Homo sapiens: one gene and its partner. The main gene of each other region encodes a partner of the protein of the gene in region 2 in a complex. Each region holds a gene or a part of one and is shown on either strand. Other genes may lie near its edges.

The links.
Region 1: CUL3 (region 2) and KLHL25 share a complex: the UniProt entries of both Homo sapiens proteins name them as parts of the BCR(KLHL25) E3 ubiquitin ligase complex.

The regions. Positions count from the first base shown.
Region 1 is NC_000015.10:85,758,721-85,761,597, reverse strand, and holds the end of KLHL25 (kelch-like protein 25), read left to right. Parts: intron 1-586; 3' UTR 587-2,272; downstream 2,273-2,877. UniProt on the Homo sapiens protein: Substrate-specific adapter of a BCR (BTB-CUL3-RBX1) E3 ubiquitin ligase complex involved in various processes, such as translation homeostasis and lipid synthesis.
Region 2 is NC_000002.12:224,470,037-224,473,863, reverse strand, and holds the end of CUL3 (cullin-3), read left to right. Parts: 3' UTR 1-3,714; downstream 3,715-3,827. UniProt on the Homo sapiens protein: Core component of multiple cullin-RING-based BCR (BTB-CUL3-RBX1) E3 ubiquitin-protein ligase complexes which mediate the ubiquitination and subsequent proteasomal degradation of target proteins.

The DNA of each region.
Region 1 (2,877 bases), on a different chromosome or scaffold from region 2:
ACCAGGAGAGCTGGGGACAGACCTCAGCCCAAGGACAAAGAGCCAAGAGCCTGGGGTGGGGGTGGGGTGGTGGGCAGCAAGTCCCAGAGGCCAGAGAACCTGGAGCTCTGATGCCCGATGGCAGGAAAAGAGCAACCTAGCTCCAGAAGAAAGAAACCTGAGTCCCCATTTCCTTAGCTTTTTATTCCACCAGGGCCCCTGCCCATCTGATGGTGCTCACCTGCAACCACGGCTCTCACGCCGGTCACCTCTGGAAGCACAGACTCACTGGGGCGGCCTGGCCATTCGAATCAAGTACCAAGCCGCCTGGGTTTCCCTTCCAGCACTGAGAATACGTAATGTGTCCCCGGGCGTCTGGGTATCCCCGAATCCAATCAAGTTGACACCTGAGTCACCTGCCACTCAGTGGGGAAAGCAGGCCTGGGGTGCCTGAATCACCAGACTGCGCTGCCGGTGAATGGTGGATCTGGCGTTCTCACGCCCGAGCCTCATGGGCAGCTGTGTCATTGTCATTTTGTTCCAGATCAGGTCAGAACAGAACAATGTGGCCACTGATTGATTTTCTCTTCCTCTCCTCCCTCCACAGACCGCGGCCTTCAGTGTCACAGCGTGGCCTTGCTTGTCTGCCACAGCGGGAGCTAAGCCGGCCCTGGGCCAGCACTCCGAGAGGTGGAAGGGGCCCTGCCAGCTCTGGGGAGCAGCAGCCTTGGGCTGTTCTGAGCTTTAGGCAAGAGAAGAGAAGCATCTCTTGCATCCGTGCCCCTGGGGGCCTCTTCAGCTTTGCAGTGGTTTGTGGGAAGACATACCTCCCAGAGGGGCATGGACTGCCACCAGGACTGACCCTGGCGTCGGGGAGAAGGACACTTGCAGAGCCTTGAGATCACCTGTTTGGCAGGTCCTGGACTGGGGCCGGGCAGGCAGGGGCAGGGAGGCGCCCCGGGTGGGCTTTGGGGCTGCGGCACTGCCACACATCCTTTCCCTCCTGGCCTGCCCTGCTGGGGCTCTACTGCCATCTATAGATGGTGTCCTGGGCCTGGGAAACTAGGTTCCCAGGGGTTGAGACCAGAAAGGTGACCAAGACAGATTTTTTAAGGTGCAGAAACTGCAGGGGGGCCTCAGTGACATCCATGAGGCCTTATTAGCAAAGGACACCCAGACCTCCAAGGTTTGTGGGCCCCTTCCACAAAGCTGTAAGTCCCAGCCCACCTACTCAGGGCCTTGCTCAGTGCTGTGGCCCGGTGGGGACACAGTTGCTCGTGGCCACTCAGTGGAGCTGGGCCTGCAGCAGACTCAAGGCTCCGAGTGCCCTGGGGGTCACCCCTCCCCTCCCCTCCTCAGAGCCCACCCTGAGAGGCAGCAGTGACCCCCATGGCACACACCTGCCAACAGCACTGGGGGCTTCTCCCCAGGAGACCACGCTGCCCTCCAAGACCAGGAGCAGCTGTGAGCTGGAGACAGCAGAGGGACCCCAGGGTGTCCCCTGCAGATCCCACCAGGGCCGCATCCATCTCAGTGTGGAGGACAGTGACGGGACCCTCACCATCCTCTTGCGTTTTGGCCCCCATTTGCTCCCTGAGCTCCAAGATAAGAATGGCCCCGAGAGAACTGCTGAACATTTGTTCATTGCTGTCACCTCCTGAGTCACTGGGGTCCCTCACCAGCACCTCCCTGACACCTGGGCTATGGAGAGGTTGGCGCCTGTCAGTGACCATCCTAATGCCTCTCGCTCACTCCCAAGCCACCATTTGAGAGGGAGGGGTGTTGGTGCCCTGACAGGGACTGGGCAGGGTGTCCAAACTTGGGGCTTCCCAGGCACCTGCAGTGTGAACACTGCTTGGCTGGCTCAAGATTAGGGCCGCGGAGGGGGCTGTGCACATACCAGTTACTTAAGCAGCCACGAGTGTCCCCCATGCCTTGGTGCGGGTCCTGGAGGCCTCTTGGGGGTGGGACCTTTGGGCAGGGTTTGCCCACTGACACGCCCGCCATGGGGCACTGGCTGCATGGGGCTCCTTGGACCCTGTAGACCCAGCAGACCCCGCCTGTGTCAGGCCAGCTGCCCGAAGGCACTTGGCTGTGGTCCCAGGGGACGGCTCTGCTGGCACACTCAGGAGCCTGGCCGCGGGGACTGCAGGGAGGGTGCCTGGACCCGTGGGGTTGCTTCATTGAGATAAAGCACACTTATCACATAGCACAAAGGACGTGCCATGGTGCTTTCCCCAAAAGTTGTGTTGCTTTTATCAGTTTTCTAACTTAATAAAAAGAGTTGAGAAAATTCTTTGCCTGCCTTGTGTGCTGGGATCAGTCTTGGAGACATTGCTGGTGGCTGACTTTGGTCTTGTCCCACCAGCCAAGGCTCAAGGCCTGCCTGCTGGCATCTGCCCCTCTCATGAGCTGGGAAGGGGGAACCCACCCAGATGAGAGGTCTCCCCATTCCTGTGCCTCCTGAAGTTGCTTTAGAAGCCATGAAGTTGATTCCGTGGAGAGTCCTGATCCTGTCTGCCCCTCCTGAGAGTGATTCTCTCCTGGAAACTCTGGTAAATAGAAGTTGGGAATGTAATTCCATCCATTCGAAAAGGCAGAACCTCCAGTTGATGCTCCTTTGTCTGAAAATAACCCGAGCGCCATTCAGAGGGGCGAAATGGCTCCAGGAGGCAGCTTCACGGCCGCAGCGCCAGCTCACGGCACCGTTGCGCCCACTGGTTGCACCGTGGGCCCTGGGCTACCTGCCCTCCTTGTGCGTTTTCATAGTCACCATGAACCTCATGAGCTCAAGCGTATGCTCACGGGTAAACATCGTGTTCTGTGTTTTGTGATCTCACCTTCAGGCGCCCCTCAGACAGCGGGCAGCCCGAGAAGGTCATGCCGTGGCGCAGCCTG
Region 2 (3,827 bases):
GCTTAGCACTTTGCGCATTGTGTAAGTTGGGTAACAAAAATGGCAAAAGAAATGCAGATTTCCCAGTTATCTTGCTCTGAAGACATTTCTTTAGCTAGTCTTATTTAATTTTAAAGGTTTGATAAATATACAAAGACCCAAGCATACAATTTGAGCATGCTGTATTCTACCACTTGCACTTACTCATCTTCTAGCCTTATGACCAGGAACCTTTGTTTTGGGCTCAAGTACACATCCTGATTTGGTTTCTCCCTGTTGTAATTTGAGATTTCCCAAATTAAGTCTTATAATGATTAGGTTTTGTTCTGAGTTATTTCTAGAGAAAGAAAGTATTTTAGTATGTGTAAATTGTACAATAATTTTTTTGCTGTTGTACTCACTGCTAATAGTGGATTGTATAGGGTGGTGTTTTTATTTCATTTATTGTAGACAAAAATAATGAATTTAGTATACACATACCCACTAATTCAAGTATGTCAGAGCACAAAGTTGGCAGCTGGTTATATTTAATTCAGCCCCTCTGAAAAGCACATACAGTCTATACTTTGTTTATAAATACCCTAGGTCCTCCCTGCCCCTAAATATATATTTTGGTGAAGCTGTGGTGCACTATTAATTTTCTGTTTCAAAATGCAATCTAAAGATGCAATAAATATGATGACCTTGATAGTTTTAATGAAATCTTCAATTCTTGCAGCTGTGTTTTGGAAAGTGATTAAGCAATATTTCTCAAACCTGATGATTCTTGGATATTTAGCTATTGTCCTCCAAAGAGTCATCGTTTCACGTTTTCAAACATGTGCTTTGTGCTGAAGATTCTTGTCAGATATCCTGTGCTTCCAGAGTATTTTTATCTTCAATTTTATTTAATTTTGTTTCATTTTGTTTTCATAAGACAATGTTTCAGATATGTAATGGGGCAAACCACTATAGATTTCTGTTGGATAGAAAAATGAAATGTTACTAATAAGTTTAAATTGACCCTTCGTTGACTATCAGTACTGTTGATACATTTATTAGAATGTATGTCTCAGAAGATGGTTTCTGTTTAAATTTATGGTCAAGTTACAACAACTGAATTCTAATATGGATTAAAAACTCCACATAAATATTTTTCCCCATGCGTCTTGGGTTATAATTTTCCTTTTAGACTTGCAAATATGCTTTTATTGCAATTTTGTCTCCATCTGTACTGTAGAATTACAAGCCTTGTGCTCTTTATCTCTACATTTTCCACTTCTACATGATGCAATTAAGATGCCAATGAAAAGTATTGTGAACATTATTCTCAGGACACTTTTACCATACTTGAGTAGTACTAAGTCAGGTGTAACATGGAAAGCTAAGGGTTTCACCTTCTGATTTTGACATAATTGGAAATTTTCTATAATGGTAAGATGTTTATAGGAAAGTAATGGTAGTTCATGTTTGAGAATTTTTTTATTGCTTTCATTTCCCAGTTAAATGATATTTAACACCTGGGAAAACAGGACAGCTCAGATTGTCGAGTTAGTAAACATGAGCGATGTAAAAACTTTATTTGAAATCTCCTAAGTGAGACATTAAACATTTTAGTGCTAGTTTAAGCCATTAAAAGTAAAGTTTAAGTTTACGTCATTGTCTCAAGTGTGGCTGTAAAAATCAGATCTAGAGTTTAGAGACATACTTGTTAACTTTGGAGCACAGGTTTGATATTTATGCTTCTAAATACATTAAAACATTTCTGAATTGCAGTTGAATGGTTGGAGATTGCTGGCGATGTGATGCTGCACTGAAAAAACTGGTCACACAAAATGTTTATATGTTTGACTGCATAAGTATTATTTTAGGTCATAAAGGTTATAACAAAATACATTTAACATTGCTTTCTTTTTAGCAAGAGGTCACAGATGCTATTTTTTCTCAGTTTTTAATGCTTTAATTTGAAAGAAAAATGCATCCTAACCATTCCATCCTGTTGGTGCAGAGAAATTTTGGTGATTTATTAGAAGACTTTTAAGGAGGGTGGATACATAGTTTTTCAACTGCAAAAATCATGTCATCTCTTCAGTAACTGTTAAAGTGTAATTCTCTGCCTTCATTATCAAGTCCAGGACAGTGTTTATTTTGAATCGTTAACATTATTTAAAGACTGAAAATTCATTGCAATTAGGGAACGCACAGCCTCACAAAAAGTGGTTGTGATTGCAAGGATTCTTTATGTCAGTGAACTTAAAAAGGGAATGGGGGAAGAGATGCATGCCTTTCTAAAGGTATGCTAGAGTCACCTGTGTAGCATTGTAATTATGTACTATCAAACCCCCAAGATGCTGATGATAGGCCTTCTCTGTAAGAATCCTTCTCATAGTGAAGCACTGTTGATGTTTTGTTCACCGGATATGTTGGGTAGCAGAAAAGGCCTAGAACCAGTTTTAAGATTATGCCTACATCTCTAGAAGACTAGTACACTGGCATCATCTTAGGTTTCTAAATATTATTTAATTCCTTAATTTGGAAAGCAGTTTTAATGTTTACAGTTTAAGATACTCATTTTCAGTAACTAGTGTTAAAGATTTTTATCTTTGCCTGTCTACTGTAACTTAAGACTTTCATAGAATAATTTTTTATAGAGTATATGGTATATTGTGTCAATCTTGGAAGGAAAGCTGTTGCATATCAATTGTAGGTCATGTATTTTACTATATGTTGCATAGTATTTTGCATTCTGTAAATACGAATGTTAAAACATTTCAGGTCAGCAAAATTAGAAGTCATTTCTAGTCCTCAAAGCAGAAATAATTAGAAATGTTAACATTTAAGTGCTTATCATATGCCAGATACTATTCTGAATATTTTATGTATATTCATTCATTTAGTTGTCATATTGGCTTTATGTGACATAACTGTCATTATACCAGTGTTGTCCAAGGTTGCTAGCAGGAAATGGCAGAGCCAGGAGTTGGACCTAGGTTTAATCCTATCCATATTCCATGTTACAAATTGACATGATTTTCCATATTAAAAAATTTTCATTTATTTTGTACCTCATTCACATGAATAGTAATGTGACAAACTAAAGTTAATACATGAAGCATTGCAATATGGAATTTTGCACATTTTTGTTAGCTTTACATTATTTGCTGATACCAACTTTTGGTAGGAAGGAAAACAGGGAAGGTGATTGCTGCTATTCTGGAATGTGTCCATTGAAAAGAAAATAGGCGCTTTGTCTCCTACAATCTTAGAGAAAGTTTTACATACTTAAGTGGGTACCACAGATAGGCATGTACCTTAAATTCAAATCTACAGTTTTACAAAATGTTTTCCTTTGTGTGCCTTTCCTATGTCAAATTAGCCAGAAGGAAGAAGAGACGTTAAGAATGGCAGATAAATTTAACAGGTAATGATACAGAGATTGGCCATTACGCCAGCTCTCAGGAGAAAAACAACTAGGATGTCTTGAAACCCGTGCATTTAATTTTAGAAATGGCAAATTTGTAAGCGTGTCATTTAAGTAATTTGATGCTCAGTTTTAGGGTCTAAGTTGACCTCGAGTGAGCCATGCAAAAATAGCTTTAAAATTATACATGAGCAGCTCAAAGTAAACGTGTATTTTTTAGTAACAATGAAATTGTCAAATTTCAAGATTTTAATAACAGGACAGTTCAACTAATAAACTTTATTGCATACAAGATTTATTGCAATGTGGGAAAATTAAAATTCTCAGTCTCAGAATTCTTTCTGCAGTTGTGATTCTTGAATAAATGCCTCAGCACGATGTCTGGTATGTAGTGGATGTAGGCACTCAGTAAATCTTCAGATGAATGTGCTAAATGATCACTCAGTGT